4 separate regions of the Homo sapiens genome follow, and all the other regions are linked to region 1. Evidence: fine-mapped expression QTL. A gene starts in region 1. Each other region holds a variant in brackets. All regions are shown on one strand. Distances are from middle to middle. Region 1 holds the start of AQP3 (aquaporin 3 (Gill blood group)). Region 2 overlaps LOC105376020 (a long non-coding RNA gene). Region 3 has its middle 22 kb from the start of AQP3. Region 4 has its middle 15 kb from the start of AQP7.

Region 1 (2,684 bases):
AGTGAACTGAGACTTGGGAGGGAATGAGGAGGCCCCTCTAGGAAAATAGAAGACATCATCCTCCCCTAGCCTGGCTGCTCTAAAACAGGTGGCTGGACTCAGGACTCCGATAGGAGTGAGGGCTCCGAGGCAGGAGAGTGATAAAGGCCACCTCCTATTGCCTTCTTGGCACAGGAGAGAGGGGCTAGGGCTGGCTGATAGGACGACTAATCTTATGGGAGGCTGTGGATAAAATGCCCCCTGTGGCTTCCCCACTTCCTATTCTTGGAAGCCAGAAGTGGGTTTCAGCCCTCCTCTGCCCATAGATCCTGATCCTCAACCATTTGGGGATCCCTACTTGCCCTTAGTTAGGCTTCCTAGTCCACAGTGGGCCAGCTGGTCTGTACTACCCAGGGCTGGGGCAGGAACGGAGTAACCCACTCACTGCAATGTAGCAACTGAACACAGAGGAAAACAGGTGTAACCACATGAGCGGCTGAAAAATCAGAGTAACTGGGACAGGAAATAGAACATAACTGGTGGGTCTGCCAGACCTAAGAAGTGCAAACAGAGTCACTCAGAACAAAACCAGGGTGAAACTGGTGTGACCAAGGAGTAACTAGGACTGAGGAGTAACTCAGGCAGGGAAATGCTCACTCAGAGAACCCACAGAGTAACCAAGAGGCCAGGGAGTAACCAGAATGCTTGTCGTCTTCTGCACAGACGCTGACAGCATCTGTCTGGATAACAGACAGGGCCTGGGAGTCGCTGAGCACCAGGTGAGCAACTTTAGACACGCGTCCTCTGTGCCTGGGCCTAGCTTCCTCCCACCCTTCTACCGTCAGAATCTGCCTCCCTTCCCACTTCGCTGTTCGCAGCCCATGTGGCCTGCACCCTCTGCCCCCACTCGTGCAAACTGTCCTCACTCACTTCAACCTTTGGACTTTTTGAGGCTTAATTATTCATTAGAGGCCAGACACCCAGGACCCAAATAACCTAATAATGGCTCATTTGCCTCCGCCCCCTCCCCTACATCTGGGGGCTGGGATTCTGGGAATCTGGAGGGGTGTGGGAGGCAGGGGAAGTGGCTGGCTGTCCCAGACTGCAAGCGTGACCGCTGCCCCCAGCCTGTTGGCTGAGTCACTTGTGGGAGGGTAAACGATCGGCACTATCACTGGGGAGTAACAGCTGTCATTCTGGCAAGAGTCGGAGCTGTCAGAGAGGGGGTTAGAACCGTGGGGAAGAGGACTTTGGAAGTCAGCTTGATCCTCCGCGGTTAAGCGTGGGGGTCACAGCTGGGGAGGTGGGTCCAGGCTACCTTGGAAAACACAGCCCCTTCGGGGAAGTGAGAGTTTGGGGAGTGCAAGGGCTGGAGAGAGAAGGGCTTCCCCGGCTCCCTCCACTCACCACCAGGATGAGGGTCCCCAGGCACTCGGCCAGCGCCTGTCGGAGCAGCCGGTAGCGGATGTGGAGCATCTCCCCGCAGCGGGACACCAGCTCCTTCTGTCGACCCATGGCGGGGCAGGCGGCGGCGCTGTCGGGCGGGCAGGGGTGGCGGGAGGCGGTGGCGCAGCGAGCAGCGGCCTCCAGCGCTGGTGGCTCCCTTTATAGGAGCGCTGGAGACACGGGCCCCGCCCGCCCTGCAGCCCCGCCCTGCAGTCCCGGAGCGCCGAGGAGTGCGCGCCCCCTCGCCCCCGCCCCACCTCGGCTGGGAGGCTGGTGCGGACGCCGGGTGGAGGGAGCTGCGGGCATGGAGTGTGAGGAGCTTTGAGGGACGGGTGGCCTTCGGAGGGCGCTTAAGGGAGGGGACGTCAAGGGGGCTGAGAGGCTTAGGCAGATCTGAGAGCCAATGGTGGGATTATAGGCAGGGTTCAGGGCCATGGCTGGAGAGGATGCAGCTGTCATAGAGACCACCTGCGCCCTGTGATCACCCCACTTCCTTGCGGGCAGGAGGAGACCTGTCAGAAAGAAACTGGCCGCATCTCTCCAGGATGACTGGACCCAACAGATCCTCAGTTCGAGGCAGGAGGAGGAGGCTGCGAGCCCCAAGTGAGAAGCAACACTGTCTCTTCTGTCAGGACAGATAAGGCACCGACCCTTCAAGGGGACAGCTAGTGTCAGAGGGGCAGCAGTCCAGACTCAGGTGGGCACACAGACACACGTGCTGAGTTCCAACCAGACTTCATGGGCCCTTCTCCCTGTGCTATGAGCACGTCGTGTGTCGCATGTCCTGGCCAGCTATGTCCACAGCTGTGTCTACACATGGCGGATGTCCTGTGTGCCTAATTGTACGGCTGGGCATTCCTCGTGGCTGTGCACATGCCTGTTGAACATGGCTAGGTGACCTAGCTTGTCACACGTGTACCTGCGTGCATTGCTCACATGGCTCCAGAGGCTGAGCTGCAGTTGCCCCGACATGCCACATGCCACATGTTTGCCAGCAGGCTGAGTCCCAGCTGTTTTTAACCCTCTCCTCTCCCATCTGACTTACCCCCAGCCAAGGAAGAGTCTGTCTCTTTTTTTTTTTTAGACGGAGTCTCTCTCTGTCGCCTAGGTGGAGTGCAATGGCGTGATCTCGGCTCCCTGCAACCTCCACCTCCCAGGTTCAAGTGATTCTCCTGCTTCAGCCTCCCGATTAGCTGGGATTACAGGTGCACACCACCATGCCCAGCTAATTTTTGTTTTTTTAGTGGAGATGGGGATTC
Region 2 (2,684 bases), 36 kb before region 1:
GGCTCGCTGCAACCTCCGCCTCCTGGATTCAAGTGATTCTACTGCCTCAGCCTCCCAAGTAGCTGCGATTACGGGTGCCCACCACCATGTCCAGCTAATTTCCTTCTTCTTAAGGCTGAACAATATTCCATTGTATGAATGTACCACATTTTGTCTATCCATTCAGTTATCCCTGGACTTGAGTTGCTCCCCTCTTTCGGCTATTGGGAATAGTGCCGATATGAACATGGGTGTGCAATTATCTTTTTGAGATCCTGCTTTCAATTATTTTTTTTTTAATTTCAGGTTTGGGGGCACACGTGAAGGTTTGACATATAGTAAACACATGTCATGGTGGTTTGTTGTACAGATTATTACATCACCCAGGTACTAAGCCCAGTACCCAATAGTTGTCTTTTCTGCTCCTCTCCCTCCTCCCGCCCTCAAGAAGACCCCCGTGTCTGCACTTTCCTTCTTTGTGTTCGTAAGTTCTTATCATTTAGCTCCCAATGCTTTCCATTCTTTTAGATATATGTGCCCTTGGCATTTTTGCCCTTTTGGGCCCCTTCTTCCAGCAAATAATAATAATAGTAATAATTAATTCTATTTTACAACTATTGGTATAAAGACAAATATATTAATTTTTTTTTTTTTTCCGAGACAGGGTTTCACTCCCGTCACCCAGACTGGAGTACAATGGTGCGATCTCAGCTCACTGCAACCTCTGCCTCCTGGGCTTAAGCGATTCTCCTGCCTTGGCCTCCCAAGTAGCTGGGATTACAGGTGCCTGCCACCACTCCTGGCTAATTTTTGTATTTTTTGTAAAGGCGGAGTTTCTCCATGTTGCCCAGGCTAGTCTCAAACTCCTGAGCTCAAGCAATCCACCCGCCTCGGCCTCCCAAATAAGTGGAATTATAGGTGTGAGCCACCACGCCGGCCCTGATGTATCAATATTAAAACATTTTCTTCAGCCTACAAGTTCTTCTTTTTCTTATTTGGATGCAAACTAAAACATTTTGTGGGCCCTTAGATTGAACATTCTCATGGGTCCTGTGCCTCCTGTGCGTCATGGAGAAGGCAGCCCTGCATGGCTCTCA[C/T]ATCCTCTTCCCCCACGCAAATGCTGCCACCTCCCCAGCCTCCATCTCCAGCCCGGAGCTCAAGAACAAGTGGTCCAGCCTCCTCTCTTGTTATCTCGTATGTGTAACAAGCACATTACCTTCACCTGCCCCAACCCAACCTCACCTCCCCACAGTCTGCCCCCTTCCCAAGGGCCTAGCCCAAGGAATGCTCCTCCCCACCACATCTCTGAAGCTTTCCCTCCAGGAGTCACTCAACTACTCCCTCTCTCGTGGCCCCCTCAATCAGCCCCAAATCTAATCTCCAAGAGCCTCTCCACGGGTCTCCCGGTCTGCATCCCCCTTGAAGTAGGAGGCGGGACTTGACTCCAGAGGTGGGGCTTGGACACTGGACCAGATTGAGGACTAGCTAAAACAGGGCTGGAAGCAGCTTTCTAATCAGACATGCGCCCCAATGTGCCATGTTAATTTATCATTGCCATCTCAACACCTGGGAGTTATCACCCCTTTCCATGGCAATGACCCAATGGCCCAAAAGTTACCACCCCTTCCCTAGGAATTTCTGCATAAATTGCCTCTTAATCTGCATACAATTAAAAGTGGGTATAAATATAACTGCAAAACTGCCCTGGGCTGCTGCTCTCCGCCTCTGTATAGCCCTGCTGTGCAGGGGCAGTCATGGAGCTGTAACACTGCCGCTTCAATAAAGCTGTTTTCTTCTACTTCTCTCTGCATTGCCCTTGAGAGGCAAAGCCGAGAACCCTCGCAGGCCAAGCCCCACTTTGGGGCTCACCTCTCCTGCATCACCCTCACTCATTCTCCATTTTACAGCCATTTTTTTCCCCTTTTTGAGACGGAGTCTCGCTCTGTTGCCCAGGCTGGAGTGCAATGGAGCGATCTCAGCTCACTGCATCCTCCACCTCCCAGGTTCAAGAGATTCTTGTGCCTCAGCCTCCCAAGTAGCTGGAATTACAGGCACCCACCACCAGGCCCGGCTAATTTTTGTATTTTTAGTAGAGATGGGGTTTCACCATGTTGGCCAGGCTGGTCTCAAACTGCCTATTTTATTTTATTTTTATTTTTCTGAAATATGTTAAATTCCAGCTACTCTGTCATTTCATTCCTACATTCTTCAGTGTTCCCTCTAAAATATAGGAACATTTTCTTAAATAATCAGTGCCATACCTGACAAAATATACAATTCCATAGAATGATCAAATACTTGGAATTGTTTCAAAGTGTCTTTTTGCATTGATTTGTTGGATTGTTTGCATCAGGATCCAAACAAGGTCACACATTACGTTGGGTTAAATGTTCTCTTAAACAAGAGGAATTCCCCTTTCTCCATCATTATTTTTTCATGTCATTGACTTGCTGAATAAATGTAGTCCTGTAAGAGTCCCACATTCTAGATTTGTCTGTGTTTTTTCTTTGTAGTGTCATTCAGCTTTTCCGTCATCCCCTGTATTTCTTTGAGTAAGTGGCTGGGCACAGTGGCCCACACCCCTAATTCCAGCACTGTGGGAGGCCAAGGCAAGTGGATCATTAGAGCCCAGGAGTTCAATGCCAGCCTGGGCAACATGGAGAATTCCAATCTCTACAGAAAACACGAAAATTGCCAGGCGCAGT
Region 3 (2,684 bases), 22 kb before region 1:
GAAGGGTGGGGAAAAAATTGAGAAATCGGATGGTTGCCGGGTCTGTGTGGATAGAAGTAGACATGGGAGACTTTTCATTTTGTTCTGTACTAAGAAAAATTCTTCTGCCTTGGGATCCTGTTGATCTGTGACCTTATCCCCAACCCTGTGCTCTCTGAAACATGTGCTGTGTCCACTCAGGGTTGAATGGATTAAGGGCGGTGCAAGATGTGCTTTGTTGAACAGATGCTTGAAGGCAGCATGCTCGTTGAGAGTCATCACCACTCCCTAATCTTAAGTACCCAGGGACACAAACACTGCGGAAGGCAGCGGGGTCCTCTGCCTAGGAGAACCAGAGACCTTTGTTCGCTTGTTTGTCTGCTGACCTTCCCTCCACTATTGTCCTATGACCCTGCCAAATCCCCTTCTGCGAGAAACACCCAAGAATGATCAATTAAAAAAAAAAAAACAAAAAAACAAATATTTACGTATGATAATGAGAAGAACACTGTCCTAGATGGCTGAAATGCTAATAGTCTTTAATTCACTATTTTCTTATTCTGACTGTTGCAAAGATTTGTAGTTTTATTGATGATTCTCACTCATGTTCTAAAATAGGAGTTGGCAAACTATTGGCTGCCTGTGTTTATGAATAAAGTTTTCCTAGAACACAACAACAAAAAAAAAACAAACAAAAAAAAAAAAGAATCTAGTTTTTGCTTTCCAGAGGTGAGAAGAAGGGGTCTTCTTCAGGAACCCCGAGCCCCATCCTCTTAGCCCTCAGTTTATGTTTTTTTTTTATTCTTTATTTTTTTGATTCTTTTTTTTTTTTTTTTGAGACGGAGTATCGCTGTGTCGCCCAGGCTGGAGTGCAGTGGCCCGATCTTGGCTCACTGCAACCTCCACCTCCTGGGTTCACGCCATTCTCCTGCCTCAGCCTCCTGAGTAGCTGGGACTACAGGCGTCCACCACCACGCCCGGCTAATTTTTTGTATTTTTAGTAGAGACAGGGTTTCACTGTGTTAGCCAGGATGGTCTCTATCTCCTGACCTCATGATCCGCCCGCCTCGGCCTCCTGAAGTGCTGGGATTACAGGTGTGAGCCACGGCGCCCGGCCTTCCCTCAGTTTCTTGAAACTCCCTTGGAGAACAGAAGATGAAATACAGAGTTGACATGTCATGCCCAGATTCCCTTTTCCCTAATTACAAGAAAGTGTTTTCCCTGTTCCGTGAGTAACTAACTGCCTTTCTCTAAGTGGCCTCACTCTGATGAGTAACTGAAAATGCACTTCTCTGTTTGAACTTTGTCAGAAGTGTCCGTGCCAAAAAGCTTTGAAATGCTCAAAAGTACATAAAATAGAAAGGGACCGCAAACATAAAACAGGAAACAAACAAGTTAATCAAGTGCTTAGCATAGTGCCCAGCACATATTAA[G/A]GACTTGGTAAATGGTATTTATTAACTCAACAGACATTTATGGATTTCCTACTGGAAGTCAGGCACTATGGGGACTTGGCAGTGACCAAAACATAGTTACTGCCCTCCCACAGCGTCCTGCCTGGTGGGCAAGACAGCCTTAAACACATGATTACACGAATGGTGGTTAGTTATAAGTGTTAAGTGTCAAGGTACTGGGGGGCTATCACATCAGGATAAGGGGACACTGATGAATTATAAGGTTACACTGGGGTCGGGCATGGTGGTTCACGCCTGGAATCCCAGCACTTTTGGAAGCCAAGGAGGGCAGATCACCTGAGGTCAGGAGTTTGAGACGAGCCTGGCCAACATGGTGATACCCCGTCTCTACTAAAAATACAAAATTAGCCGGGCATGGTGGTGCATGCCTGTAATCCCAGCTACTCGGGAGGCTGAGGCAGGAGAATCACTTGAACCTGAGAGGTGGAGGTTGCAGTGAGCTGAGATTGGGCCATTGCACTCCAGCCTAGGTGACAGAGCGACGCTCCGTCTCAAAAAAAAAAAACAAAAACACAGTTGGGGTACGGTGGCTCACACCTGTAATCCCAGCACTTTGGGAGGCCGAGGTGGGCAGATCACCTGAGGTCAGGAGTTCGACACCAGCCTGGCCAACATGGTGAAACCCCGTCTCTACTAAAAATACAAAAAAATTAGCTGGGCATGGTGGTGCACACCTGTAATCCCAGCTACTTGGGAGGCTGAGGCAGGAGAATCACTTGAACCCGGGAGGCAGAGGTTGCAGTGAGCCAAGATCTCGCCATTGCACTGCAGCCTGGGGGACAGAGTGAGGCTCTGTCTCAAAAAAAAGGGGATATATTGGGGAATTCTAAAAAGGAAAATAATTGTCATGTTAATAAATGGAGATTTTAGGGCCAGGCTGGGCAGAGGCAACTGCCAGTTGTCATGAGTGCATGCAGAGAAGATTCAGGGCTTCCTGGAAAAGGCTTCTACCTGGTATTTATTTAATACCCTGGGAATAAGTGCCTAGGCCCAAGGCCTAGCCCACCTAGAGGTCAAAATGAAGCATCGCTTGCCAGGGCAGACGGCAAAGCTAAGTGTAGCAAATCCAGGTCAGGAAGCCCAGAGGAGGCCAGAGGCTGGAAAGGCAGGGGCAAAGTCTCAAATGTGGGCACATGTTGAGCATGTCAAAGAGAAAGACACCAAGGGGACCTCAGTGAGGGGCTTGAGATCAGAGGATGTGGATGATGATCGGGAGGAGGCAGAGGTAGGGCA
Region 4 (2,684 bases), 30 kb before region 1:
AACTCTGAGCCCAGGAAGTGTGAACCTGAGAGGCAGCAGGCTGGGGGTGGGGACGGAGGCAAATGAGAGACAGGGTAAGATCTGAGCTGGTTCCCGGGCTCAGGCTGGAGTTCATGGCAGCTCACTCCAGCAGCAGGGTCGGGGCCCATGGGCAGGGATGGGTGGAAGGATTTTTCCAGCCTCACTGAGAGCAGGTCTTGGCCTGTCACATCACTGTTTTGAAGTTTATTTGGAAGCTCAGCCCCAGAACTCTAATGCCTCACATCTCCAGGAGGTCTGAACCCCTCTGTGGGGCAGTGCAAGTTCCCTGGAGGCTGCGATCTGATTTCAGCCCCTAGTCCTTCAACCGAGCAACACAGGGGACACCACCATCCCCCATAGGAAGCCTCCAGGACCGAGCTTTCCTGACTTTCCGTGCGCCTCCATGAGAATCTGTTACCCAGCAGCCTGGCAAGGTGACCCCACAGGGATTATTGCCCCTCTACAAATTGAGCCCCAGACATGGTAAAGGGACATCTCCAAAGTCACCAAGTGAGAGCTTCCTGGCTCCTAGTCCAGACTCTTTGGCCCTCTTCAAGCATCTCTCAGATCATGGAGTGTGATGGGAAGGCAGCACCAGGCCCCAGGTGCCGGGGCAGGGGCCAACACACCAAGTTGTGGAGTGTGCATACAGTGCCACACAAACCAGGGGCATGCGCAACCTGGGGCTGACGTGCTCACCCCACAGCCCCTCAGACCAGACGCAGCCAGGACCCTCACGTCCCTCCTGCCTGCAGAGGGGGTAAGAGAAAGCAATGACTGAGTGCCCACCTGCCACTCACTGCTCCCAGCCTGCCTGTGTGGCCTGTGGGGTGTAAATGCCGTCTCAGGGTTAGGACAGTGGAACCACCCTGGCCTGCAGCCGGGAGCTTAGGGATAAGGTTAGGGAAGCTGCTGCCGTCACCACAGGCTTAGGGTGCCCAGCTCTGCCAGCTGATCCAGCCAAGTCCTTCTTGGGGAAGATGAGCTGTCATTAGAGAGCCCTTCCCACCTCTCAGACCTCCGCTTCTTATGGCTCGACAGGCTCTGAAGCTGCAATCCTTCTTTTCAGGAAGACACCTGTCACATGTGCGTGTGCTCTGGGAAGTGCTGTGTGTTCATCCACACTACCTCCGCCCATGCCACATGCCCCCTTCGCACCTGTGGCACACAGTCTAGGGGGCTGTGTGCCTGGGGACTCCCTATGTATGCTCAGTCAGACACGGGTACACATCTTGGACCCAGGTGTGTAACACAGCATTGCGCCCATATAGGTGAACACACAGGTGCTATATTCTGCATCCCTCCTACCCCTTTCAGAGCAAGGACCATTTGAGGGTGAGGGGTGAGTCACCTGCCAACCTGTGGGACCTGCTGAGCTAGCAGGATGGGAAGCCACAAGCTGACAGCTGTGGCTTCAAGGGACCAACACCCTGCGTGGGGCCC[G/A]CCCAACCACCAGCCTCCAGCGCCCCCAAACCCCTTACCTCCACCCTTATTAAATCCTACCCACACCCTCAGCCAAGACTCATGCCAGAAAGGCACCTCTATTCCTTTACAATATATATCTGCAGCTGAGCTGTCGCTGCACCTCATGGGCTACTACCAGACCTCTGCTTCTGTACAGATGCCTCAGGGAAAAACCAGGGTGGCAGCAGGACCCATCCCTCTCCTCTCCTCTGTCCAAACCCTGAGACTCCTAACTATGCCCCCCATGGAACCCCTTCTTGTTGATAATTCATACCTTTTGCGCCTCTTATTGAGCACAGAGCCCCATTCTAGGCCCAGACGGGCTCTGTCCCCTCCTGCCCTCTCTCACCTCTGTATTCCTGCTCAGAAGTCTGTCCCCAAGTCTGGGAACTCCCTGAGGACAGAGGGGCAGTCTGCAAACATAGACAGAAAACCAGGAAACCCGAGTAGCCCAGGTGAGTTGATCGTCCCCCAGATGAAGGAAGCTGGTTAAAAGCCCTCCTGGCTCCTCCTGTGCTTTGCCAGCACACCCAATTAGTTACCAAGACAAGTCTTGCTGGGTCTAAAGAATGTCCTCAACTCCTACTCTGTGCCAGACGTATCTGTAAATACATGGTCAACTTTGTACATGCGTCACTCGGCTGGGCATGGTGGCTCACACCTGTAATCCCAGCAATTTGGGAGGCTGAGGCAGGCAGATCACTTGAGGTCAGGAATTTGAGACCAGCCTGGCCAACCTGGTAAAACCCCATCTCTACCTGGGGTCCCACCATACAAGTGACCTCACCAAGGGACTGTTCTCCACCCTCTAGCCACTCCCCATCCCTACCGCAGAGCCAGGACCTAGCCTAGCCCAGTATCTGTCTCTGCAATTCCTGGAGACAGTCGCCAGGTAAGGGCAGCTGGCCTGCTGGAGCCACCTCACCCACCTCTGATCTTTGCCTAGGATCTGCTCCTGCCTGTCTCCTGGTTCTCCAGGGCACACACCCCACCCTGGGGCCGAGGCTCCACTATCCACCTGTCCAGACTTGCCTTCCATCCTGCGGGCCGACACGCCCAACCCAGCCAGTGCCCTGTGGTAGAATGTCTCACTCAGGTCAGAGAGTACAGCAGGAAGAGGGGGCTTGAGGGGGCACCTTCCACCCATCCCCATGGCTGACACCCCTTCCGCAACTCGGGAAGGTCCCTGAAGGACCTCA

What was found. PIP is the estimated chance that this variant, and not a neighbour inherited with it, causes the effect.
Region 2: its variant is fine-mapped to the expression of AQP3 in whole blood (TOPMed, PIP 0.95).
Region 3: its variant is fine-mapped to the expression of AQP3 in lung (GTEx, PIP 0.90).
Region 4: its variant is fine-mapped to the expression of AQP3 in whole blood (TOPMed, PIP above 0.99).

Annotation. Positions count from the first base shown.
Region 1 is chr9:33,446,037-33,448,720 of GRCh38, forward strand. It overlaps AQP3 (aquaporin 3 (Gill blood group)), which reads right to left and starts at 1,557. Exons shown (of 6, transcript NM_004925.5): 1 at 1,387-1,557. The coding sequence starts at 1,494. RefSeq lists a silencer at 1,543-1,732.
Region 2 is chr9:33,409,597-33,412,280 of GRCh38, forward strand. LOC105376020 (a long non-coding RNA gene) reads left to right here. Exons shown (of 3, transcript NR_188543.1): 3 at 644-954. Among named protein-coding and RNA genes, the nearest start is that of AQP7, 8.4 kb to the left of the region's middle. The variant C/T (reference allele first, on the strand shown) is at 1,077.
Region 3 is chr9:33,423,975-33,426,658 of GRCh38, forward strand. No RefSeq gene overlaps it. Among named protein-coding and RNA genes, the nearest start is that of AQP3, 22 kb to the right of the region's middle. The variant G/A (reference allele first, on the strand shown) is at 1,413.
Region 4 is chr9:33,415,816-33,418,499 of GRCh38, forward strand. No RefSeq gene overlaps it. Among named protein-coding and RNA genes, the nearest start is that of AQP7, 15 kb to the left of the region's middle. The variant G/A (reference allele first, on the strand shown) is at 1,465.